7 linked regions of the Homo sapiens genome follow. The protein of the gene in region 2 purifies or fractionates together with the protein of the main gene of each other region. This does not show direct contact. Each region holds a gene or a part of one and is shown on either strand. Other genes may lie near its edges. The genes, in order: CC2D1B, BMX, ERC1, PPM1G, C11orf58, CHD1 and ABCE1.

What was found.
Region 1: the proteins of BMX (region 2) and CC2D1B purify together in Homo sapiens (affinity purification with mass spectrometry; 2 studies listed by BioGRID and IntAct, with this or other methods). This does not show direct contact.
Region 3: the proteins of BMX (region 2) and ERC1 purify together in Homo sapiens (affinity purification with mass spectrometry; one large-scale study listed by BioGRID and IntAct). This does not show direct contact.
Region 4: the proteins of BMX (region 2) and PPM1G purify together in Homo sapiens (affinity purification with mass spectrometry; one large-scale study listed by BioGRID and IntAct). This does not show direct contact.
Region 5: the proteins of BMX (region 2) and C11orf58 purify together in Homo sapiens (affinity purification with mass spectrometry; one large-scale study listed by BioGRID and IntAct). This does not show direct contact.
Region 6: the proteins of BMX (region 2) and CHD1 purify together in Homo sapiens (affinity purification with mass spectrometry; one large-scale study listed by BioGRID and IntAct). This does not show direct contact.
Region 7: the proteins of BMX (region 2) and ABCE1 purify together in Homo sapiens (affinity purification with mass spectrometry; one large-scale study listed by BioGRID and IntAct). This does not show direct contact.

The regions. Positions count from the first base shown.
Region 1 is NC_000001.11:52,356,206-52,359,705, forward strand, and holds part of CC2D1B (coiled-coil and C2 domain-containing protein 1B), read right to left. Parts: coding exon 3,500-3,500; intron 3,330-3,499; coding exon 3,254-3,329; intron 3,153-3,253; coding exon 3,045-3,152; intron 2,953-3,044; coding exon 2,822-2,952; intron 2,554-2,821; coding exon 2,481-2,553; intron 2,257-2,480; coding exon 2,126-2,256; intron 1,712-2,125; coding exon of another isoform or gene 1,694-1,711; coding exon 1,576-1,693; intron 1,494-1,575; coding exon 1,321-1,493; intron 922-1,320; coding exon 796-921; intron 238-795; coding exon 179-237; intron 98-178; coding exon 1-97. UniProt on the Homo sapiens protein: Transcription factor that binds specifically to the DRE (dual repressor element) and represses HTR1A gene transcription in neuronal cells.
Region 2 is NC_000023.11:15,507,307-15,510,806, forward strand, and holds part of BMX (cytoplasmic tyrosine-protein kinase BMX), read left to right. Parts: intron 1-1; exon of another isoform or gene 2-103; intron 104-1,038; 5' UTR 1,039-1,047; coding exon 1,048-1,185; intron 1,186-2,022; coding exon 2,023-2,127; intron 2,128-3,500. UniProt on the Homo sapiens protein: Non-receptor tyrosine kinase that plays central but diverse modulatory roles in various signaling processes involved in the regulation of actin reorganization, cell migration, cell proliferation and survival, cell adhesion, and apoptosis.
Region 3 is NC_000012.12:1,025,723-1,029,222, forward strand, and holds part of ERC1 (ELKS/Rab6-interacting/CAST family member 1), read left to right. Parts: intron 1-2,025; 5' UTR 2,026-2,181; coding exon 2,182-2,850; intron 2,851-3,500. UniProt on the Homo sapiens protein: Regulatory subunit of the IKK complex. Probably recruits IkappaBalpha/NFKBIA to the complex. May be involved in the organization of the cytomatrix at the nerve terminals active zone (CAZ) which regulates neurotransmitter release.
Region 4 is NC_000002.12:27,403,092-27,406,591, forward strand, and holds part of PPM1G (protein phosphatase 1G), read right to left. Parts: intron 1-3,500.
Region 5 is NC_000011.10:16,737,368-16,741,446, reverse strand, and holds the start of C11orf58 (small acidic protein), read right to left. Parts: upstream 2,801-4,079; 5' UTR 2,669-2,800; coding exon 2,606-2,668; intron 1,892-2,605; exon of another isoform or gene 1-1,891.
Region 6 is NC_000005.10:98,898,008-98,901,507, reverse strand, and holds part of CHD1 (chromodomain-helicase-DNA-binding protein 1), read left to right. Parts: intron 1-172; coding exon 173-322; intron 323-425; coding exon 426-697; intron 698-1,802; coding exon 1,803-2,028; intron 2,029-2,743; coding exon 2,744-2,844; intron 2,845-3,073; coding exon 3,074-3,252; intron 3,253-3,500. UniProt on the Homo sapiens protein: ATP-dependent chromatin-remodeling factor which functions as substrate recognition component of the transcription regulatory histone acetylation (HAT) complex SAGA. Regulates polymerase II transcription.
Region 7 is NC_000004.12:145,101,311-145,104,810, reverse strand, and holds part of ABCE1 (ATP-binding cassette sub-family E member 1), read right to left. Parts: intron 426-3,500; 5' UTR 399-425; coding exon 296-398; intron 1-295. UniProt on the Homo sapiens protein: Nucleoside-triphosphatase (NTPase) involved in ribosome recycling by mediating ribosome disassembly. Able to hydrolyze ATP, GTP, UTP and CTP. Splits ribosomes into free 60S subunits and tRNA- and mRNA-bound 40S subunits.

The sequences.
Region 1 (3,500 bases), on a different chromosome or scaffold from region 2:
CAACTCAAAGTGGTGGGTGGGAGGGTCGAGGCCCTGAGCCTGGGCCAGCTGCAGGATCTCCAGCTGTTTCTTGCGGTCCTGAGCAAGCTTCTCAAATCTGACAGGGATGGGTATGTCAGCATGATGGTGGATTTTCTGCTCCCCACCCTATGAGCCCAGCCCCAGCCCTTGCACTTACCGGGTGGTCTCAGCCACGTTGCCCTGGTGCATGAACTGCTTGGAGAACAGCAGGCACTTCTGAAAATAGAGGCCCAGAGTGACTCCCGAGCCCAGAGCAGGACCTGCCTTGGTTGGCATTCAAGGCTAGACTTCTCAAAGCTTCAACTTTCCTCTGTAGCCTCACCTCTCTCCTCCCACAACACAGCCCCAAGGGCACTACTCCCAAGTCCCACCACGTTTCTCTGCCTACACTTTTGTCATTTTCTCTTCTGAGGAGAGCCATTCCCCAAATTAGCAACTCCTTCCATCAAAACCTAACTCAAACATCCCCTCAGAAGGCAGCCTTTCCAGAACAGGTGGCAGTTCAGATAGATAAATACATAAACATACACGCACATCACAATGTTCTTTCCCTCTTCTCTGTTGTTTGTACCACCCTGAAAGGGGTATTATCACCCCATCTCATAGATGAGGAAAATGTAGTTCAGAGAAGAAAGTGCCTTGCCCAAGTCACACAGTGAGTAAGTGGAAGAGCTGAGAATTTTGAGTCCAGGGCTGTGTGGTCTGAGCTCCAGGTCTTCCTCCACGGGGAGGCTGTGGGCACAGAGGGGAGGAACAGACGAGGGGCCTGCTGACCTCTTGTTGCTCCAGAAGCATTTTTTGCAGCTGGGCATACACCTCCTCCGCCTTCTGGGAGAGTCGCAGGTCCTCATGGTGGATGAGGATGAAGTCACCCTCCTCATCCGTCAAGGGCGAAGGCACCTACCCAGGTCACAAGGCCCCTCGGGCCCCAAGAGTCAGATTACTCCTCTACCAAGTCCAACAAAGGCAGGAGCCCAAACTAAGTAATTCTTCAGCTTCTACTAAAGTCCAGTGATGACAACTCATCGCCTCCCATTCTATCCCAAAATAACACTCTTGCCTCCCATGGCCTGGCCCAGCCTTGTCATCTCTGACCACAGGCAGCCCACCTTCCCTTCTCCTGGTTTCCTTTGGGGCCGTGAGGTAGAGGAGTATGAGCAAAAGGCTCTTTCCCAGCTGTCATCATGCTCTGTCCAAACCCTGCCTCATCCCAGAAGCTGCCCTTGTTCACAGCCTGTCAAGCCTGCCAGCCGCCACCTCCGCCTGAGAAGTCCTGGTGGTTAACCAGGTGGGACTCACCTTGGACAGATCAACAGGTCTGCCAGATCGGGCCTGGATGATCTGAGCCTCAAGCCATTTGGCTACCCGCAGATAGGCTTTGGCCTGCTCCAGGTCCTGGCTGCGCTTGGCCTGCAGGGCTGCCCGCTGATACTGCAGTTTCCGTGCCTCCAGCAGTGCCAGCTGCTCCCGCACTGAAGGGAGAAGGCCACTGGTTAGGGCCACACCTGCCCTCTCTAGGCCCTCAGTTCTTCACCCTGCTTGTCCCCAACTCACCAGATGGACTCGGTGACTCCTTAGAACTTGAGGCCCTGGGCTCAGGCAGGCGCTGGGATGAAGGGACTGTGGGCCGTGCAGGTTTCTTGGCCACTGGGGCCTGTGCTGGGGGCTCACCCTGCAGGTGCCCAGGAGGCTGTTAGGAGGGGATGTGTTCCCTAGCATAGTCATGGCGGCTCCCAGACTTGGGCTGTCTTCCTAACACTGTACTACATCGCTGTGTGACCTGAGATGGGTGGCTTCTCTTCCTGGGTCCTAAAAGATCTGAGAGCTAGAAGCAGCCTCAGAAGCTCTCACATCTAACCTCCCCAGCAGGAGAGAGACTGCAGGGTAATGGGGATGGAGCCGGGGCTCTGGGTTCAGAAAGACCTTGGTTTGAATCCTAGTTCTGCTATTTCCTAGCTGGGTGTCCTTGGGCAAGTTTTTTCTCTGTACAGTGGAGGAAAGAATATGTACCTTATTGGGCTTGTTAGTATGGACAACAGGGTCTGGGTTTACCCCTCACCTGCTATTCTCCCCACCAGCCCTGGAGTTGAGCCCTCAACCAAACCTCGTCCTCGTCTTTATCAGCCGGGGCTGAATCCTCTGCAGAGGCCAGTTTCTCTGCAGCTGCCAATGTCGCTGCCACTGCGTCCTCCTCAACACCCATAGTGGACTCCAGGCCAGGGATGGGGGGAAATCCTGTGGGAGAGAGACAGCATGGGAGGGGCAGGGAGCAGCCTCAGAGAAGCACAAAGCTACCCGGGGCCCTGTCTGGGGCATGGCTCTGCTGGGGCATGGCTGGGATGGATGGCTCCACAGAGGGGAGGCAGACGCATGAGAAGTGGGAATCACTGGCTGTCCCCCATTCCCTTCTTGCCCAGGGACCACCTCCTCACAGAGCCCCTAGGCCATGCCCCACTTACCTGGAGGAACAGGCAATTCAGCAAAGTTGACTTTCCGTCCTGCTCGGTGTGCTCGAATAGCATCTTGATATTGCTGCAAGGGAAGGAAGGGAGGGGCCTGTGGTCGGCAGCAGCCCACAGGCCCCCTGCCCAACATGACACACAGTGGGGCAAGGAGAGGGAGACTGGTGGGAAGACAGCAGCCCTGGGAGAAAAAAAGATCCCTAAGGCAGCAAGAGCCCCAGAGAGACAAACAGATGATGGTTCAGAAAAGACAAGGACTAGCCGGAGGACCAGGGAGACAGAGCACCCAGCCAGGGAAGAGGCCAGCACAGGCAGGGGCTGCATAGCCGCGGGCCCACCTTGGCAATGCGCTCATGCATCCGAGCCTTGCGCTCGTCCCCACCACTCCGGGCCTGGATGCCCGCCTCGCGGTACTTGTTCAGCCTCTGCTGCAGGGCATCCAGCACTGTCTGTGACTCTGTAGGGGCCACTTGAAGGAAAGAAGGAAGAAGTGGGCATCAGGTCAGCCTGCCCTCCAATGCCTGCAGGTCCCCACGCCACAGTCCCACCATCCTGCCCTACCTGGGGTTGCTGGGACGTCAGGGGCCATCACTGGCTGCACTCGCTCCACGGCTGGGGGAATGACTGAGGGTGCTGTGGGAGCCTGAGAAGCCTGCTGGGGCTTCAGATCTGGGGGACCCAGAGTAGAGGTGTAGGTGGGAGGGCCTGGCCAGCCCCAGGCCTGCTACTCCTCCCCAACCCCACCGCAGCCTGAGAAGATACATACTGACCCTCAGGTGCCGGGGGCATGGCACTCAGATCCACGGGCTGCCCCTTCTCCAGGGCCTCCAGGACAGCACCGAATCTCTGCAGAAGTTGGAAAAGCAGGTGTGGGTGAAAGACAGGGGACCCCAAGAGCCTGGGCTGAAACAACCCCCACTTAGGCCAATCTCACTCAATCTCAGTCTAGCTCCCTTTCTGAGCCTGTTTCCCCTATCTATAAAATGAGGGTGGGTGCCCTGAGCCAGATGCCATACC
Region 2 (3,500 bases):
AGGGAATATGAGTGATGGTGCCTCAAAGCAGTAACTTTTTGCTTAGAGCTTGAGAGTCAAAGTTAAGGACCCACATGTATACTTCGGCTCTAGCGAGTCTAAGGTGAGTAAAGCCTTCAGATTATCAATAAAGAAAGATTTTAACTATTGGGCATGTGAATTCAAATAACGATGCAATTTCACAAAGCAAAGAAGAACATAAGAAAGTTTGTTTCTCTGGCCTACTGCTCAACATTGCTACTTTTCATGATCAGACCTGATATTAGACTGAGGGTTGAAGTAACTGTCTTAGTAGAATTAGAAAATTAATGCATTTATTTTTCAGAAATACCTTAAGTTTTAATGTTTTACATGATTTTGGGATAAAAAGGAAGAGTCTTTTTACTTTGTAAATGTACTCATTTTTTCAGTTCTTTTAAATCTCTTTTGATAGCATCTGTTAGTGCACCCTCATACATTTTCCTCATTTTATCTTATCTTAGGCATTTACTTTGATTTTAAATTCTCATAGATATTGAAAATTATACCTGTGTAATTTATGTTAAAGATCTGGCCATGATCAGGGGCTGCAGGTGTTATTTACAATAATGTCAGTGTCTCATAGTGGTTTGGGTAATTTGGTCAAATTACAGGCCGTTACTTCATAAATTGTGAGCTGTCTGGAGTTAAATTTTCTGAAGTTTTATTATATCCAATTCAATTCAACCAACACATATAGAATGTTTAAAAAGTAAGGAGCATTTTGATAAGGTGGTCTGGAGAATGGGGCAAAGATGATGAATTTATTATCCACAGTGGGAGGAGTCAAAAGTATAAAGTGCTTTTTAAAAATCAACATATTTATAAAACCCAAAGCAAAGGCAGCAGAAAAACTGTAGCTATTGTGTAATTTATTCTATAATCCTACATCAGTCTCATTTATTAAAATCAGCATTTATATTATCCCTTAATAGGAAATCGTTGAGGAAAAGATATGAAGGTTAAAGAGAACTTACCTAGATGCTGCAAATACTCATTTTAATTATTTATTTTGTTTAGGATGATAATATGGATACAAAATCTATTCTAGAAGAACTTCTTCTCAAAAGATCACAGCAAAAGAAGAAAATGTCACCAAATAATTACAAAGAACGGCTTTTTGTTTTGACCAAAACAAACCTTTCCTACTATGAATATGACAAAATGGTGAGACATCATGTGTTCCATTATTTTTATACTATTTATTATTTTTCCTAAGTCTCCACAAAGTACTTGATCATAATGAAAGAATATCAGGTTTCTTAACTTACACTGTGAAGATCCTCTTCTATCCACTTATCACATGACCTTTTCTTAATGAAAGTATAATGAATTCAAGATAAAGGATTTTAAAACATTAGTTAACTTTACTAAGGCAAATTATAACTTTAGAACAGTGGTTCTCAACTGAGGGCATTTTTGCTCCCCAGGTGACATTGGGAAAAGACTGGAGATATTTTGGGTTGTTCCAACTGGGGGATAGGAACAGTAAGTGTTAAAGACATCTAGTGAGTAGAGGCCAAGAATGCAGCTAACCATCCTGCAGTGCACAGGACAGTCCTCACAACAAAGAATTACCCAGCCTTAAATGGCAATAGTGCCTTAAAACAATGCTAGAAATAAGACTATTCCTGTACAGTTGAGAATTCTACTATAGTAAAAACACTGAAATACTGTCATAAGACTGAGCCAAAATGAAGATGCTTTGCAGAAGTTAAATCTTGATTTTCCTGAGTATATTAACCACATGGTAGGTGATTTGAAACACATTTCAAGATAATCAAACAAGATTATTAACCACTGGAATATATGTGTTTGTGTCCAGACTCAAGGAATAGATTATGTTGTCATTGGATTTTGACTATTACGGGGTAATAGGAAGTGACTCTCCATTGCCCACCCCCCACCCCAATCTCCCTCTCAGGCATAACTTGGGCTTTATGCCTTTCCTTGTGCACCATGATGTATTGCAGGAAGTATCTTACATTTTGTTTTTTAATTCAGAAAAGGGGCAGCAGAAAAGGATCCATTGAAATTAAGAAAATCAGATGTGTGGAGAAAGTAAATCTCGAGGAGCAGACGCCTGTAGAGAGACAGTACCCATTTCAGGTAAAGGGAAGAACGACATTGCATTGGGTGGATAGTTCTTCCTTCAATTTTTCTATCGTGAACTCAATATATCTAGGAAAAATAATGATATTTCAAAATAATCTAAACAAGGCTTGGAATATTCCCACATGGGAGTTGGGCATTTTGCTAAAATTCTGTCCACCAATCTGCCTTCCCTGGAGGGAAGGGAAGGGAAGCAAGACAGGAGCGTAAGTCGCAGTGACCTGACCTGCCTCAGGTCTGATCATCTCTTTTAACAAACATTGCTGAGTATCTCCGATGTGGTACACAGTAGTAGGCATACTATGGGGAACAAAACACTGCCCCTACCCCAAGGCATTTACAGGGAAGTGGCAAAATAGACTAATACACAGACCATTACAAAGCAGTGAGGGTGAGAGTTAAGGTGGAGGTCAGCAGAATGCATCCATGGAGTCCCAGGATGTGGAAGTTTCATTCCTCACTCCAAGAGGCTAGAGAGATATTCTATTGGAGGTGACACTCAAGTTGAGAAGGACAAGTAAAATTTAACCCAGCAAATATGAGAAGGACAGTGGTACAAAGGAAGCAGCAGGTGTCAAGGCACTGATGAGTGAAACAGTATGACACATTTAGAGAGCACTAAGTAGTCCCTATGAATAAAGAAGCCCATGTGACAGTGAAAGAGATAGCCTGGAGAGGTGACCATGCTAAGGAGTTTTCATTTTACCCTGAAGTATTTTAAACAATGGTATGGTATGTAGTGTATGCTGGTAGTACCTTTTGGAAGTGGCCTAATCTAAGTCATGCCCTACTTTTCTTATAGCATAAAATCTTACATTTCTGATCCAAAGGTAGATGGATTGTCTTTCAGATGGCCTGACTACCCAGTGCTAGTATTAGGAACCTGTGGCCAAAAATGAAATACAATAATCCAGTTGATTAACAACCCATACTTCCCATTTGGAAAAAATATTACCAGGCCAGGCACAGTGGTTCATGACTGTAATCCCAGCACTTTGGGAGGCCAAGGAGGGAGGATCACTTAAGGCTGGGAGTTCAAGACTAGCCTGGGCAACATAGCGAGACCTCATCTCTACATAAACATTGTTTTCATTAAAAAAATTACCCAATTGGGGGAAACCAGGGGAGGGCATGCTCATGGAAGATGCTGCAAACTCACCTCATAGAGGCATAGTGCTCAAAAGATCACAGGCTTTGGAGCCCCCAGAGAGTTCCTAGTTCCACCACTTATACTTGTGCAACTGTAAACACATACTCAACTTCTATTTCTCACAGAGTTGAAATAAGATTAAAATACTGAAGTAGCTAGGAAAGAGCCCAGCAACTAGTAAGTGTTTAACAAATGCTGTGTATATTTACCAACAAGAGTT
Region 3 (3,500 bases), on a different chromosome or scaffold from region 2:
CCTCACTGTATTAGTCTGTTCTCATGTTGCTAATACAGACATACCCGAGACTAGGTAATTTAAAAAGGAAAGTTTTTTTTTTTTTTTTTTTTTGAGACGGAGTCTCGCTCTTGTCACCCAGGCTGGAGTGCAGTGGCGCGATCTCGGCTCACTGCAATGTCTGCCGCCTGGGTTCAAGCTTCTTATGCCTCAGCCTCCTGAGTGGCTGGGATTACAGGCACCTGCCACCATGCTTGGTTAATTTTTGTACTTTTAGTGAGATTGGGTTTTGCCGTGTTGGTCAGGCTGGTCTCGAACTCTTGATGTCAGGTGATCCACCCGCCTTGGTCTCCCAAATTGCTGGAATTACAGATGTAAGCCACTGCACCCTGCCAGGAAAGAGGTTTAATGGACTCTCAGTTCCACATGGCTGGGGAGACCTCACAATCATGGCAGAAGGCGAATGAGGAGCAAAATTATGTCTTACATGGCGACAGGCAAGAGAACTTGTGCAGGGGAACTCCAATTTATAAAACTATCAGATCCCATGAGACGCACTCACTACCACCAGAACAGTAGAGGGGAAACTGCGCCCATGATTCAGTTAAGTACACCTGGCCCCACCCTTGATACATGAAGATGATTGCAATTCAAGGTGAGATTTGAGTGGGGACACAGCCAAACCATATCACTCACTGTTTGGAAACGTTACTTTTAACATATATTAAATTCCCATATATAATTTAGACCCTGTTCTTGGGCTAGTACTATACAGTTTTCGTTATTATAGTTTTACAAGGCTACAATACTTTGTAAGAAACCTTGCAGGTCAGATGTGGTTTTGTTGTCAGGAATTTTTTCCAGTAATACTTAGTGGACATTATGTAGTATCCAGTAATCACACACATTGTTTTCTTAATGAAATATATGAAGTCACACTATGTGGGATACATATAAACAGTAAGTAAGCTCAGATCAGGTCAAGGTTTGCTGCTAGATGAGTTAAAAGGAAAATCTTATTTTCAGAGGTTTTTGGATTTTTGCAGTACAAATGAAGAATTATGGATTTGTAATTTATGTTGCTGTTGAGGGCTGTCTTCCTTCCTTGTTCATCTATTTTAAATTGTTTGGTTACTCTTGTATCTTTACTCTCCATTTGAATTTTAGAGTCAGCTTGTTGAGTTACTTGAAAAATCCTTCAACACCTGTGAAAGGAAGGGATCTATAGCTGGTTAGCAAAATCCTGTAGAGATTTTTCACTGGGATTGTGCTAAGTAGTTGGGGAAGAACTAAATCTTAGCAGTGTTTGTCTTCTCATCCATGAACACAGATAACTTTGTTTAGGTGTTCTTTCATGTCTTTCAGTAAAATGTTATAGTTTTTTTCCCCCAAAATTCTTGCACATTTCTGTTGATTTACATCAAAGTACTTTTATGGTTTTGTTGCTGTTGTGAATGGGATTTAAAATTTCCTTTAAATTAAAAACTGCATTTTCTAGTTGTTACTACTGATGTATACATTGATACTTATATATTGATATTGAGTTTGACCAGTTTGTTGAGTTCTGTTATTCTAATAACTTGTCAGTTGATTATCTTGGGTTTTCAGTTAGCAAGTCAGATATTCAGACATTGAGTTTAATCTTTTCCTTGTCAATCTTTATACTTCTTGTTTTTTTTTCTTTTTCTTTTTTGTAGACAGGGTCTTGCTATGTATCCCAGGTTGGTCTTGAACTCCTGGCCTCAAGCGATCTTCCTACCTTGGCCTCCCAGAGCGCTGGGATTATAGGCATGAGCCATTGCACTTGGCACTTTTTTTGTTTGTTTTCCAGTTGCATGGTATGTTTTCAGCGTTCAGTTTTGAGACATCTAAAATATCTCTAAAATATTGTTTACTATGAGTACATTATGCTGTAATCACATTCTGAATGCGTGAGTACATACATGGTAGAAGGGCTAGATCTTCTTTAAGTGGGGGTAATGGAAAGTCTCTGAGAAGGGAAATATTTATTATTGGAGGATTTAATGTGTGATCTTTTCATTACAGATATGGTGTAAGATACTTCTTCAAGATTGGACAGCTGGGGACCTTCTTCTGATTAACCTTAAACCAACTTGTAGCCATAGAGACACCTCACAAGGTTCCCATTTTTGTTGTTGTTGTTGTTGATTTTCTGCTCACACCTTTCCTGACCTTGCAACCATGTATGGAAGTGCCCGCTCTGTTGGGAAGGTGGAGCCGAGCAGCCAGAGCCCTGGGCGTTCACCCAGGCTTCCACGTTCCCCTCGCTTGGGTCACCGTCGAACCAACAGTACGGGAGGGAGTTCGGGAAGCAGTGTTGGAGGTGGCAGTGGGAAAACCCTTTCAATGGAAAATATACAATCTTTAAATGCTGCCTATGCCACCTCTGGCCCTATGTATCTAAGTGACCATGAAAATGTGGGTTCAGAAACACCTAAAAGCACCATGACACTTGGCCGTTCTGGGGGACGTCTGCCTTACGGTGTTCGGATGACTGCTATGGGTAGTAGCCCCAATATAGCTAGCAGTGGGGTTGCTAGTGACACCATAGCATTTGGAGAGCATCACCTCCCTCCTGTGAGTATGGCATCCACTGTACCTCACTCCCTTCGTCAGGCGAGAGATAACACAATCATGGATCTGCAGACACAGCTGAAGGAAGTATTAAGAGAAAATGATCTCTTGCGGAAGGATGTGGAAGTAAAGGAGAGCAAATTGAGTTCTTCAATGAATAGCATCAAGACCTTCTGGAGCCCAGAGCTGAAGAAGGAACGAGCCCTGAGAAAAGATGAAGCTTCCAAAATCACCATTTGGAAGGAACAGTACAGAGTTGTACAGGAGGAAAACCAGGTAAGTTCTACGTGTGTTTACCTTTATTGGCTGAATTCATGTATATAAATGAAATAGCCTTTTTTTCCCCTTTCCTAGATTTTTCCCTTCGTAGTATATGTATCTTCCTTTTTCCTATTGATTTTACTGTTTTGTGTCCTCCATTTCTCAGCCCTTTCCAAATTTGGTCCTGTACCCTGTTTTCTTCTAGCTGCCCATGTCTCCTTGCTCCCATTCTTGCTTGGTTCTTTTCTCTGGTTTCTCTTTCTCTTCGTGTCTTTCCTTTCAGCATATGTTATCTTTTTTTTTTTTTTCCAATTCTTCTGAGAGTATAATTTTGCCACACTCTCTAATATCTATTACCAAATGTATTTTAGAGTAGGTAACTTAAATGTAAGGTATACCATTAAGATTTGTCATAATGTCAAAAAGTCATTCTTAAAAACAAAACAAAATGACTATCACAGGATAAGTCAGTGTTGTCAGCTGAGAACAGAAATTACTTTTAAAAAGTTAATGTTGGCCGGGTGCAATGGCTCACACCTGTAATCCCAGCACTTGGGAGGCCGAGGTGGGCGGATCATTGAGGTCAGGAGTTCGAGACCAGCCTGGCGACGTGGTGAAACCCTGACTCTACTAAAAATACAAAAATTAGCCAGGTGTGATGGCGT
Region 4 (3,500 bases), on a different chromosome or scaffold from region 2:
ACCACTCAAGCATGGGCAAGAGTGAGATCCTGTCTCAAAATAAATACATAAATAATTTAAAAAATAAAAAGGCCGGGCACAGTGGCTCATGCCTGTAATTCCAGCACTTTGGGAGGCTGAGGCGGGCAGATCACTTGAGGCCAGAAGTTCAAGACCAGACTCGCCAGCATGGGAAAACCCCTTCTCTACTAAAAATACAAAAAAGTTAGCTGGGCATGGTGGCGAGTGCCTGTAATCCCAGCTACTTGGGAGGCTGGGGTAGGCAAATTGCTAGAACCCAGGAGGCAGAAGCTGCAGTGAGCCGAGATGGCACCATTGCACTCCAGCCTGGGCAACAAGAGCAAAACTCCAACTTAAAAAAATAAAAAGAAAATAGTTTCTCCATGCTCATGGGCATACATGTGATATAATTCTATACTAGCTTTGAACTGTGAATGGGTACTGCATGCTAATCAAATGCAAATAATGCGTTTTTATAAAAGTTGCTAACCACATTCTAGACAAAGAAATTCTGGCCAGGCGCAGTAGCTCACGTCTGTAATCCCAGCACTTTGGGAGGCGGAGGCGGGCAGATCACCTGAGGTCAGGAGTTCAAGACCTGCCTGACCAACACAGAGAAACCCCATCTCTACTAAAAATACAAAAAATAAGCCAAGTGTCGTGGCACATGCCTGTAATCCCAGCTACTCAGGAGGCTGAGGCCGGAGAATCACTTAAACAGAAAGGCCAGTGAGCCGAGATCACACCACTGCACTCTAGACTGGGTGACAGAGACTCTGTCTAAAAAAAAAAAAGAGAGAGAGAGAGAAATTCTGACCTGGTTTAGTAAGTAAAAAGCGCTTTAAGCTATTGGCTATTGATATGAGATGCTAATCTGAAGATAAGAAAATAAATGTTTTTCAACCTTCAATGCCCTAAGGTAGAACCCCATAGCATACTTGTGATATTTCTTTTTATATTTTTTCCATTAATTTAATGACTGAAACAAATATGCAGGTATTTTAAGAATTTTCTGCTCAATACTATCTTTATAGTCAATTCTAGATGACCCCTTGACCACTAATAAGCCAGCTTCTACACAGCAATAAATAGCCAGCCTCCTCAAAATTATACTATAGATATTGACACTGCCTTTAATAAAAGGAAAATATGATTTATAGCACAAAAAATTCCTGGCCGGGCACGGTAGCTCACATCTGTAATCCCAGCACTTTGGGAGGCCGAGGCAGGTGGATCACAACGTCAGGAGTCTTGAGACCAGCCTGGCCAACATAGTGAAATCCTGTCTCCACTAAAAATACAAAAAAAAATTAGCTGGCCTGGTGGCAGACTCCTGTAATCCCAGCTATTTGGAAGGCTGAGGCAGGAGAATCACTTGAACCCAAGAGGCGGAAGTTTCAGTGAGCCGAGATCAAGCCACTACACTCCAGCCCGGGTGACAATGCGAGACTCCGTTTCAAAAAAAAAAAAAATTCCTAACTCTCCATAGAAAGCAGTTTTGTCACTTCCAGAGAACCTCACAACCAAATATTAAATGTACTCTTGTCCCCTTAAGACTACATCAACTGATGGGCCAGGCATGGTGGCTCACGCCTGTAATGCCAGCACTTTGGGAGGCCGAGGCGGGCGGATTAAGAGGTCAGGAGTTGGAGACCAACCCGGCCAACATAGTGAAACCCTGTCTCTATTGAAAATACAAAAAATTAGCCGGGCATGGTGGCAGGCGCCTGTAATCCCAGCTACTCGGGAAGCTGAGGCAGGAGAATCGCTTGAACTCAGGAGGCAGAGGTTGCAGTGAGCCAAGATCATGCCATTATACTCCAGCCTGGGCAACAGTGCAAGACTCCGTCTCGGAGAAAAAAAAAAAAAAAAAAGACTACATCAACTGAATCTATTTTCAGATTTGACTTCTTATTTAGCCAACAAAAACTCAAGGGCCTTACCTTATAATTTTTCAGGCACCCCTCCACAACCTACCTCATTTTTTTTTTTTTTTTTTTAAGATGGAGTCTCACCCTGTCGCCCAGGCTGGAGTGCAGTGGTGCGATCTCGGCTCACTGCAACCTCCGCCTCCCAGGTTCAAGCGATTCTCCTGCCTCAGCCTCCGGAGTAGCTGGGACTACAGGCGTGCGCCACCATGCCCAGCTAATTCTTGTATTTTAGAAGAGACAGGGTTTCACCATATTGGCCAGAATGATCTCGGTCTCTTGATCTCGTGATCCGCCCACCTCGGCCTCCCAAAGTGCTGGGATTACAGGCATGAGCCACCGTGCCCAGTGCCTACCTCTTAATCCCAAAGTACATACCTCATCCACTTTTTTCATGGAGAAAGGAGGAAGGAGGAGAACATCAACTGTGGTGGTTTTTTTGTTTGTTTTTTTGAGACGGAGTCTGTCACCCTGGCTAGAGTGCAGCGGTGAGATCTCGGCTCACTGGCCTTCCTATTCAAGCAATTCTCTGGCCTCTGGCTAATTTTTGTATTTTCAGTAGAGACGGGGTTTCACCATGTTGACTAGGCTGGTCTCGAACTGACCTCAGGTGATCTGCCCCCCTCGGCCTCCCAAACTGCTGGGATTACAGGCGTTAAGCCACCACGACTGGCCTGTGGTATTTTGATTACCTTTTCTCAAAACACCCTGGTTGCTGGGCATGGTGGCTCACAGCATTTTGGGAGGCAGAGGCGGGCCGATCACCTGAGGTCAGAAGTTCGAGACCAGCCTGACCAACATGGAGAGACCCCCATCTCTACTAAAAATACAAAATTAGCCAGGCGTGGTGGCACATGCCTGTAATCCCAGCTACTCAGGAGGCTGAGGCAGGAGAATCGCTTGAACCCGGGAGGCGGAGGTTGCAGTGAGCCGAGATCATGCCATTGTACTCCAGCCTGGGCAACAAGATAGAAACTCCGTCTCAAAAACAAAACAAAACAAAACAAACAACAACAACACCCTGGTCACACAGGAAGAGAAGCTTGAAACAGGCAGAAAGTAAAAATGCCAGCTATTGATGATTGCCATTTTTGTCTCAAGAGTCCTCTCTACGGCTAAATCTATCCATCAGTCAGCATGTCAACAACCTTTAGTGGTATGATAACCTTACCTCAAATGAAGCATTAGGACCAAGCAAATAGGGTAAATAAACTTTATTAATTTTTGGATTAAGCCCTAAAGCTTCAGAGGAATGGGAGTACTTTATATTTTCTGGAAAGATAAGATTCAGGGAAGAGGCTAGAACTCATAGTTATTTTCTTGCAATAGCAAAGAAACTATGCTACACTTTGAAGAGAAAAAAAGCCAGAAGGAACACTATCAATGAAGCAGAATAGGATCCCAAACAATACTCTTCAAGAGGATTTGATTAGGCATATTTAACTATTGATTAGGCATATTTATTCAAACAAGGGCAACTTCAGAAACAGCACATTAGCAAGATTTTAATACCCTAAGCAGTTATCTCTCAGGAGGAAGATTAGGATGTAAGGAATAGTCTAGTAAGATCTC
Region 5 (4,079 bases), on a different chromosome or scaffold from region 2:
ACTCTTCCCACTTCCTATAAGATAGCTTTCATTTCTCCACTCCAAGCCAATGAAACGACTTTTAAGTTGTTTTCATCCTTAATACCCTTTACTACAGAACTGCAATCAATTTACCTCCTCAATACATAACCTGGTGACTCTTAGAATTTACTCCTACATTGTTAGCGTTTTTCTAGAGTTGTATTGTGATTTAGTATCTACTTTTAATAGTAAAAAAATGTTTTGTTACCTCAATTAGATGTGAGGTCAATGGGCATAAGAAAACTTCAATGATCTCTCACATACCGTGGATGCTCATTAGAAACTGTTTCCCAACTATATATTATAACTAGATTTTTTTTTTTTTTTTTTTAAACAGAGTCTCGCTCTGTCGCCCAGGCTGGAGTGCAGTGGCGCCATCTTGGCTCACTGCAAGCTCCGCCTCCCGGGTTCACGCCATTCTCCTGCCTCAGCCTCCCTAGTAGCTGGGACTACAGGCGCCCGCTACCACGCCCGGTTAATTTTTTTGTATTTTTTTAGTAGAGGCGGGGTTTCACTGTGTTAGCCAGGATGGTTTGGATCTCCTGACCTCGTGATCCGCCTGCCTTGGCCTCCCAAAGTGTTGGGATTACAGGAGTGAGCCACCGCGCCCGGCCTGCTAGTTTTTTTTTTTTTTTCTGCAACAGCTTGGAGGTATTTTAATGAATGCATTACTTATGGTTAAAAAAATTTTTTTTTTAAGTACTGGCTGGGCGAGGTGGCTCACACCTGTAATTCCAGCACTTTGGGAGGCCGAGGTGGGCAGATCGCTTGGGTCTAGTAGTTGGAGACCAGCCTGGGCAATGTGGCAAAATCTGGTCTCTACTAAAAATACAAAAAATTAGTCGGGTGTAATGGTGCACACCTGTAGTCCGAGCTACTGTAGTGGTGGTGGGGGAAGAGGGGGTTGAAGCAGGAGGATCACCTGAGCCAGGGAGGTGGAGGCTGCAGGGAGCACTGATCGATCGTGCCACTGCACTCCAGCCTGGGCGACAGAGACCCTGTCTCACCTGTCTCAAAACAAAAACAAAACCCAGGTACTTAAAGATACGCTTATATGATTGGGAAAGGTCTTCAAGGTCGTCTAGTTTAAACCGACCTCTTCCGAAGCTGTAAACTTAATGACTTAATCCCTTTAACTTTGTTAAATTTCATATCACCTGGAGTTTTCTGTCACGCTAAAAGATATTTCCAAACAGGTGTCTGATATCCTAGCAATCAAGTCACATTTAAAGATCAGGAGGAAAACAATGTAACAGCTTTTTAAGTGGCAGCCAGGTTACTCAAAAGTGTGGATCAATTCCTGACAAAACCTGAATTACCATATTAACAAGATCTAAAATCCAGTAGCAGAAATAACAGAGAGCAAGAATAAACTTCTCTAGGTGCCCATTCATCCCCAAATCTTTACTGATTGCTAATCTTTCTGCAGAGCTGAAGTCGATTCCTTTAAAGATCCTTAATATTCCGGTCCTCGCCCCACCTCCCATCAGAGGGGTAGGTCTTAACATTATCTCATTTGCTACAAAGTAGTATTCAGTGGGCTTTTAAAATTTTATGAAGAGCGTTGAAATGCACTATCGAAAAATTTAAAGCTCTATGTATTCAGAAATTGACAGTACTTTAAACAAAACCGAAAAAAAACCTAGATATCCCTTCATCTTCCTTAAAGATGACCTCTCCGCGCTCTCTCCAACAATTTTCCCCATCAACGTTGCCAAGACACTTATCCATTGTATGAAGGACCTAGTTTTACGTTTACTGGTTACCTACCGTTTCCATGACACTGGGCTAGGAGCTAGGACAAATATACAAAAAGGCCTAAAATAAGCATCATATTTCTCTCCGAATTCCCAACACCCGGCAGTGCAGTAAATATTTAACGGGTTACTTTAAGGGATAAACCGTTTGCTATTAAAACCTATGAGGTGAGGGCTGAGGAAGGGAACGGCATTTGATGGGGAGACGAGGTAAGAAGAACGAGGTATTAATATCCGACATCAAAATGGGCTTCTAGGTCTCAACGTCTTAGACCTCACCACCAGAGCCAGTACCAAATTACACCCGTGGCACAATTTTCGGCTCAATACTGTTCTCGGTTTACCCTTACTAGTGCAGCTAAAGTTAACTCTCAACAGCACATTGTAAAAATCATCCAGGCAGGAAAAATCTGTACAAACGTGCACGAACATTTCGACATTGTCACGGGAACATTTAGAACCCAAAACAGGGAGAGTCTTGCCGTCTCTATACTGAGTACAAAGGCCCGAGAAAGCACTCTCATCGGCCCCCCAAAACGCACGTACGAAATCCCTTGACTAAGCTCTTTCACTCCTCGACCCTCTCAGAATTTCCTTCCTCAATCCCCCTTCCTACGCAGGTCTCCGGCTCTCAGCGTGTGGGCCTCTTCAAACCTTCTGACCCTCATAAAGATTAAGGGAGGCATTTCCCACTCATTCTTCTGGTTTCTTCCCTGGGCTCTCCCGCTGCAGGCCACCTCAGGCGCGTCCTCCTCCAACCACCCTTCCCGGCCTACTCCAGGCTTTAGTAGGCCTCAACCCTCAGCCACTCCGCCATTATTATTTACATCGTCGTCTGGGGAGGCTGAACGCTTCACCCCATGCGGGTGAGACTCTCTGGCAGCACTCATCCTTGCGGGGATCCCGACGAAAAATGCCGAACCCTCTCGCCGCTCTTCCCAGCCGCAAAACCAGCAGCTTACAATCCGCCAAGGGCCCAAGCAGCGCCACTACAGAACGCAGAGCCCCTCCGGGCCTTCTCTGCCACAGTCGTCACCGTTGCGGCCCCTCGCCGCCCCGGGGCACTTTGGGAGTTGTAGTTTTCTGATTCATTGCATACTGGCCCGAATAAAAAAGATGTGTCCGTGACTAAAACTACAATTCCCAGGAAGCCCCGAGGCTCAATTCGCGCTGTGTGGCGGGAGTGCCCTCAGAGGCCCCGCCTTCGGCTGGTGGAGGAAGCGTTCCCGCGGATGTGTATGGCGGTGAGCGTTGGCCGAGAGCTTTGTCGCCACAGGAGGAGGCTTAGAGGGGTTTTTGCCTTTCACCGTGCAACGCTGCCCTACTGGCAAATGTATCATCGTAGCTAGGCACCTATGTTTAAATGTAATGTTTGAGGCTGACTGAATCCTCACGAATACCCTCCACCCAGGACAAAAACCTTAACCAAAAATGGCTTCTACCATTTCCACCCTGGTGTTCTCTATTGCGCGCAGGGGATTTCTAGGTGGTCGGTGATGCTGCTTTCTAAATGTTTTCATGAATATTTCGCTGTTTTCCCATACAGAAATGAGTTCAGTATGTTGTTAAATGTTGGCTAATTGGCGGTTGTTGAAAACGGGGATTTAGCTGAGGGAAATCTGTTAAGTTTTCATATGGCTTTGTGTGAGGTGGGAGTGCTCCTCACTGACCTCGCTGTGGATGTCTGGGCACCGTTACAGTAGGGGCCTTCACCAAGCAAAGTCCATCCCTGCCACAAAAGCCTCTATTTTTTTTCTTTTTTAAAAAAAGTAATTATTGAGGTTAAATTCACATATAAAATTAACCATTTTTTAAAAAGTGTACAATCCACTGTCACTTAGTACATTCACAATCGTGTGCAGCTGTCACCTCTGATTCCAAGAAGTTTCACCACTCCAAAAGGAACCCCAATGCCCGTTAGCAATCCCTCCCCATTTCTCGCCCTCTCTCCAGATTCAAGTGATCACTCCTCTACTCAAAAAGCCCTGCATTTAAAGCTATTTATTGTTCAGATACTGAAGACTATCTCCTACTTTATTAAGGTGTCTGAATTTGTAACCAGGTCTGAACTTAACTTTCTGTCAGAATCCTTGTCCTTAATAATTCTGAAGCTTTCTCACCTTGAATACAAATGTGATTTTTTTTTTTTTTAAGCAAAAATTAGGCCTGGCGCCATGGCTCAGGCCTGTAATCCCCAGCATTTTGGGAGGCTGAGGCGGGTGGATCACGAGGTCAGGAGTTCGAGACCAGCCTGATCAACATGGTGAAACCACGTCTCTACTAAAAATACAAAAATTAGCC
Region 6 (3,500 bases), on a different chromosome or scaffold from region 2:
AAGAATATTTTCCAGAGTGTTTTTGTTTTATAAATATTTCATTTTTAGCATGAGTAAAAGCAACAGTATTTTTGATAGCGAATATAGTTTGGTTGATTTGATCATCTTTGTATTAGGGATAAAACTTGCCATATAAGTACAAATAAAAATACTTTATAAATTTTGTCTGCAGTGAAGATTGGCAAATGTCTGGGTCAGGATCTCCATCTCAGTCTGGTTCAGATTCAGAATCTGAAGAAGAGAGAGAGAAAAGCAGTTGTGATGAAACAGAATCTGATTATGAGCCAAAAAACAAAGTCAAAAGCAGAAAACCTCAAAATAGGTATGGTCTCAGTTTGGTGCTGAAAATTGATTGTGGAAAGTATTTGTTCTTTTTGTATATAGTTTCTCAAATCTTGTTTTTTTTTCTCTTTGCACTTTCCTAGATCTAAGTCAAAAAATGGAAAGAAGATTCTTGGACAAAAAAAGAGACAGATTGATTCATCTGAGGAGGATGATGATGAAGAAGATTATGATAATGATAAAAGAAGTTCTCGTCGCCAAGCAACTGTTAATGTTAGCTATAAGGAGGATGAAGAAATGAAAACAGATTCTGATGACCTACTGGAAGTCTGTGGAGAGGATGTTCCTCAACCTGAGGAAGAGGAATTTGAAACCATAGAAAGATTTATGGATTGTCGGATTGGGAGAAAAGGAGGTAGTTTTTAAAAAACCATTTATTGTTTGGTTATTTAAATAATATTTACAGGAGTAGAGGGCTGGGCACAGTGGGTCGCCCCTGTAATCCCAGTACTTTGGGGGGCCGAGGCCGATGGATCAGGAGTTCTAGACCTGAGGTCAGGAGTTCTAGACCAGCCTGGCCAACGTGGCAAAACCCCATCTCTACTAAAAATAGAAAAGATTAGCTAGGTGAGGTGGTGCGCACCTGTAGTCCCAGCTACTTGGGAAGCCGAGGCAAGGGAATTGCTTGAACCCACGAGGCTGAGGTTGCAGTGAGCTGAGATTGCACGACTGCACTCCAGCCTGGGTGACAGAGCGAAACTCCATCTCAAAAAAAAAAAAAAAAGGTAAAGTATTTAAGATTTTTCTACAGTGTTGAAAGCTAAGAGGGTGGATTTTTTGTTGTTGTTGTTTTACTTATGTTTTATAAAAGCTACTTTGCTTAGCCTGAGTACCTTCTTAATAACCACCTGACCACATTTCTTTTTTCTTTTTTTTTTTTTTTTGTGACAGAATCTCGTTCTGTTGTCCAGGCTGGAGTGCAGTGGCACGGTCTCAGCTCACTGCAAGCTCCGCCTCCCAGGTTCACGCCATTCTCCTGCCTCAGCCTCCCGAGTAGCTGGGACTACAGGTGCCTGCCAGGACACCTGGCTGATTTTTTGTATTTTTAGCAGAGATGGGGTTTCACCGTGTTAGCCAGGATGGTCTTGATCTCCTGACCTCGTGATCCGCCCGCCTCGGCCTCCCAAATTGCTGGGATTACAGGCGTGAGCCACCGTGCTGGGCCTCCAGCTGACCACGTTTCATATATTGTGGATAATTATAGAATAATGCTGTGGGATCTCAGGTGGATCTCTGTCTTTTTATTTTTTCTAATTCGAAAAAGGAGGGGATTATATTAGATAATTCTGAAATTCTCAGTTTTATTTATGAGCAATAGAATTTCCCATAAGTTTCTATACCCCCAATACTTTATTTAAAAGAGTATATATTTTTGTACTCATATTATTGAAATTTTGAGTTGAAATATAATCCTACAACAGAATTAATTACATGGAAGGATCTTGTGCTTTTGTTTTCAGCTACTGGTGCTACTACAACCATCTATGCAGTTGAAGCAGATGGTGACCCAAATGCAGGCTTTGAAAAAAACAAAGAACCAGGAGAGATTCAGTATTTAATTAAATGGAAAGGATGGTCCCATATCCACAACACTTGGGAGACAGAAGAAACCCTCAAGCAGCAGAATGTTAGAGGAATGAAAAAATTGGATAATTATAAGAAAAAAGATCAGGAAACAAAAAGATGGTAAGTATGCTGTATATCATATACTTCTTTTAATAGTTCAAAGATTACTAAACCTTTATGTTAATAAAGAATACATAGTAACATTAAATGATAGCCTAAAATAGCTATAGACTTTATAATACAGTTGGCTGTCTTTGTCCACAGCTTCTCTATCCTTGGTTTCAACCAACCATGGATTGAAAGTATTCGGAGGGAAAAAAAACAACAATAACACAAATTAAAAACAATACCATGTAACAACTATTTGCACTGCATTTACGTTGTAAATGTAAAATTGGGTATTATAAGAACATCTAGAGATGATTTAAAGTATGGGGGAGGATGTGTGTGGGTTATATTTTAGGTACCATGTCATTTCATATAAGGGACTTGAGCATCCTCAGATTCTGGTATCTGTAGAGGATCCTCAACCAATCCCCTGCAGGTAGTGAGGGATGATTTTATTCCATCTCAAGGTAAAACTCCTAGAGGTATACCTATCTAAACCTATCCTTGGTAACAGTCACATAGAGTGTGTCTCATACATTATAAATTACAAATTTTTAGTTAAAAATTAATGATGCTTTATTCCTGTTTGAGTTTCTTTATTACTCAAACTTGGCCCACACAGTGGCAAAATGGGAGATTTTGTGCTACAAATAGTGTTGGGGATGGGGGAGTGAAAGGTTATTTATGGGAGATTTTTAAGTCTATTCCTGGATTAATAATTTTTCAGGTTGAAAAATGCCTCTCCAGAAGATGTGGAATATTATAATTGCCAGCAAGAACTTACAGATGATCTACATAAACAGTATCAAATAGTGGAACGTATAATTGGTTAGTGATAAATGATTCTAGTTAAACTTTCTTTTTATGCTTGAAATAATCTGAAAAAAGTCATAAGTTTGCCACTTACATATCAAACACAGTAGCTTGCTCTTACTAAAACAGTATTGTAAACTAGATAGCTAAATTTTACTTGTGTAGCCTTTACTAAGAATTATGTATCTGATGATTAAATGTAAAAAAAAATAAATAAATAAGTAAATGCCTGATTCTCTCACAGCTCATTCCAATCAAAAGTCAGCAGCTGGTTATCCTGATTATTACTGCAAATGGCAGGGCCTTCCATACTCAGAGTGCAGCTGGGAAGATGGAGCTCTCATTTCCAAAAAGTTTCAAGCATGCATTGATGAGTATTTTAGCAGGAACCAATCAAAAACCACTCCTTTTAAAGATTGCAAAGTGAGTATTGTCTAACATTTTAAATTATTAAAAATATATTTATACATTATAAATATTTACAAGCCTAAATACAAGAGTTGGATCCTGATTTCAGATAGACTAAGGGAGAATATTTCTTGGTTAATAGGTCTTACAGGAAGTGAACTTCTGCAATTGCTGTGTGTTTTTTAGTTTTAGTTTTATAATTTTTTATTTCAAACTTTCTCTTAAAAAAATTGTAAATGATGTTTTCGTCAATGTATCTTCTT
Region 7 (3,500 bases), on a different chromosome or scaffold from region 2:
TATAAGATTTTGTAGATTTCAAGATCAGTAAGCTGAACTCTGCTTTGAGTTCACATCCAATACACTTTTAAATATTGATGTATTATTCTAAAATTTGGTCTTTCTTTAAAAAATATGATCCTTCAGTCACAAAGCAATAAAAGAAATTTAGAACAAACTACTTTTCTTGTCTTCACAGTTTTATGAAACTAATGGTGAACACAAAGTTTATGTTAATGTCCGTAAAGAATTATCAAACCAGTTGATTTCTTTCATGGTTTTCTTTTATACTTAAATGATCCACAGAACAGCTTACCCATTCGAACTACAGGACAACTCTTTTTGCATTCCTGTCGACATTTCTTAGGTTTACATTTGTCATGGTTGACAATAGCAATTCTCGTTAACTTGTCTGCCATAACTGGGCGAAAGAATATCCAGCTCTTCTATGAAAGAAAAATCAACAAATTTAATGCCATTAGTTAAGGGAACTAATTTGCATACATGAAAGACAGGAAAACATAAATGATCATTATATGGAGATGAAATGATTATCTGCAAAAAAAAAATATAAATTTTGACAAATGTAAAAATTGTAAAATAATCTATAATCTAGTAAGGTTGGGAAAATCAAATTTTACATATATACTTTAATCAGAAGATTTATATAAGGAAAGAAAAAAATGTCATTTACAATAGCGACAAAAAGAAAATATCTAGGAATATACTCAACAAGATATATACACAAGAAAACTTTAAAACAACACCAAATGATATAAATGACCTGAACAAATGACATGCTATCTCAGTTTTTATAATAAAGAATAGTTAATATCACAGATTTAAACCCTTCCTGAATTTATATATTTAATTCAATCTCATGAGAAAAAACAAACAAAAGAACCCCAGACATGTGGTGGTGTGCGCCTGCGGTCCCAGCTATTCCGGAGGCTGAGGTGGGAGGATTACCTGAGCCTAGGAGGTGGAGGTTACAGTGAGCTGAGATCACACTACTGCACTCCAGCCTGGATGAGAGTCAGACCCAGTCTCAAAAAAAAAAAAAAACCCCAACCAACCCAGACAAAGCAAATCTAAAGCTCTAATGGAAAAAGAATTATTAATAGCCAGGAAAACTGAAAAAGGGGAAGCAGGATGGGGGAAATCCCACAAGCTCTTCCCCCAAACTAAGCATTACTTCACGTCGTGTACATCTGACTATAATGACACTGACAGAAATGGCAAATAATCATAATAGCAATGAAATTAAAAGGAGACCAAATAACTATATGTATATACTATGCTCACTTTTAAAGCTTTTATAAGTCTTGATATTCCAATTTAATCAACTACACAGCATTAAGATCAAAGTTAACTTAAAAATCTTTCACAATATTGGGCTTAGTGGTTCAGAAATTAATTTCCTTAGAATGGTGATTAAAGTAAAAAATTCCAAAAGGTGCCTTAATACTCAAGTTTATTCCAATATGTAATGAATGAATCTGAAACCAAGATTATCCATTTAGAAAGAGATCATGTTGTCTTTTTCTTACTGTGATAATCAATCTTGATTTTATTTTATTTTTTTTAATAGACTGCTTCCCTTTGTAGACATCTCAAGTCTTTTTCACACCCATCAATATCATTAGGCTTGGATGGGGATAAGAGATCTTGCTCCTCGACGCTGTCCTAGACTATTATCTCTCCCTCCTCCCTAAAAAGTTTTGCATCTCAACTATCTAACTGCTTTAGTTAGTAGTGACCACCAGATCACTCCCTTTCATTCTTTGAAGATTTCAGCCCCTGTTAACTTTCACACACTCTTTTACAACTCCTGACATAGTTCTCGATTTCAATATGCTCACAGATGACCCTCCTGTCCTCTCATTTAACCCCTCTCCTCAAACAGCTTGTCTTCTACCTTACCACAGCCATTCATTTTTTCTGGTTACATCCTAGACCTTATCATTACCAGTAATTGCAATCCTTCTATAACCTCAACTTCAAATACTCCATTCTCCAACCACCATTCTTATCTTTTTAGTTCACCCCCTACTACACAACAATCCAACAACTCTGATTCCTCCATTCTTCAAACCTTTCATTATCTCTTGATTCTATCATATTTCCACTGTCCCTCAGCTCTTGGTGTTTTTATTTTCCTTCTCACCCAGCTAAAATACCCTAAATCACAATCTTGGTTAAATTCGACTCTTCACCTGCACACATAGAGCTGAAAATGGTAGGTGAAAAAAAAACACAAAACCTGCTGACTAGTCTCCCTTTAAATTCATCATCTCAAATGGACCCTTATGCCAACCAGCAATGACACTGTATGTATTTCCCTGGCTAAGACCATTTGTACACTAGAAGACATTCCATAAGAATGTCCCAACAATTCTCCCTTCTGTCTTTAACTTCATCAATTATTCTCTCCACTGGCTCATTCTTATCAGCATTCAGGCATTCTATTATCTGACCCCATCGTCTCCCATTGTTTTATTTTTCCTTCTTCAAGACTACTTCAAAGAGTTGCTTATACTCAATGTCTCAAATTTCTTGCTACATGCTCTCTGGAATCCATTCTAGGCTCTAGAGCCCATCATTTAATCAAAACTTTTCGAGCCATCATTGTTCTTCACATGGCTAAAACAAATGGTTATCAGACCTTAATTCACCTGACCAATCAATTGCATCTGACACAAATAAACACTTTTCCTACTAGATAAAAACCCTTTCTTAACTTGGTTTTAGGATACAACACTAATCTGGTTTTTCTACTGTTTTCCTGGTCACTCATCTTCATCTCCCAGGCTTCTAAATGCAGAGTGCTCTAAGACTTGGTCATTTTTTTCCACATATACTCATTCCCCAAGTTGTTCTATTCTGGTCTCACAGGTTTAAATTCCATTTATATACTGCAAATTTCCAAATTTCTATCTTTAGTCAGCATACCTCTCTTGAACCCTTCCTGCCCACCTAACATCTCTGGAAGGCTTAAGAGGAATCTCCCAACTAAGCTCCTGATATCCTCACCAAAATTTCAGCAGTCTTGCCCATTTTGTTAGATGGCAACTCCAGTCTTCCATTTGCTCAGGCCCAAATCCTTGAAGTCATTTTCTTTTCCACCTAATAACAGCAAATCCCACTGAAGCTATAAAACATCCAGAATCTGATCTCATGAGTTTGGTGTAAGCTATCACTATCATCTCTTACCAGCATCACTCAAATAGCTTCCTAACAGATCTCTTTGCTTTTACCCTCACCTCTTTCTACTCTAACCCTCAACAGTTCATTCTCAACACAGGAACCATAGGAAGCCTTTTAAAGAGTAAGCTAGATCATGTCACTCCTCTATTTAAAATCCTGCAATGGCTTCATTCTCAATCTGAGTAAATGCCAAAGTCCTGAAAATAATCAATGAGGCATTGATCAGCCTCTGTTAACTTTCTGATCTCATCTCCAACTACTCTAGCTCTTGTATGGCTCCAGCTACATTGGCTCTTTGTTGTTCCTAGCACATG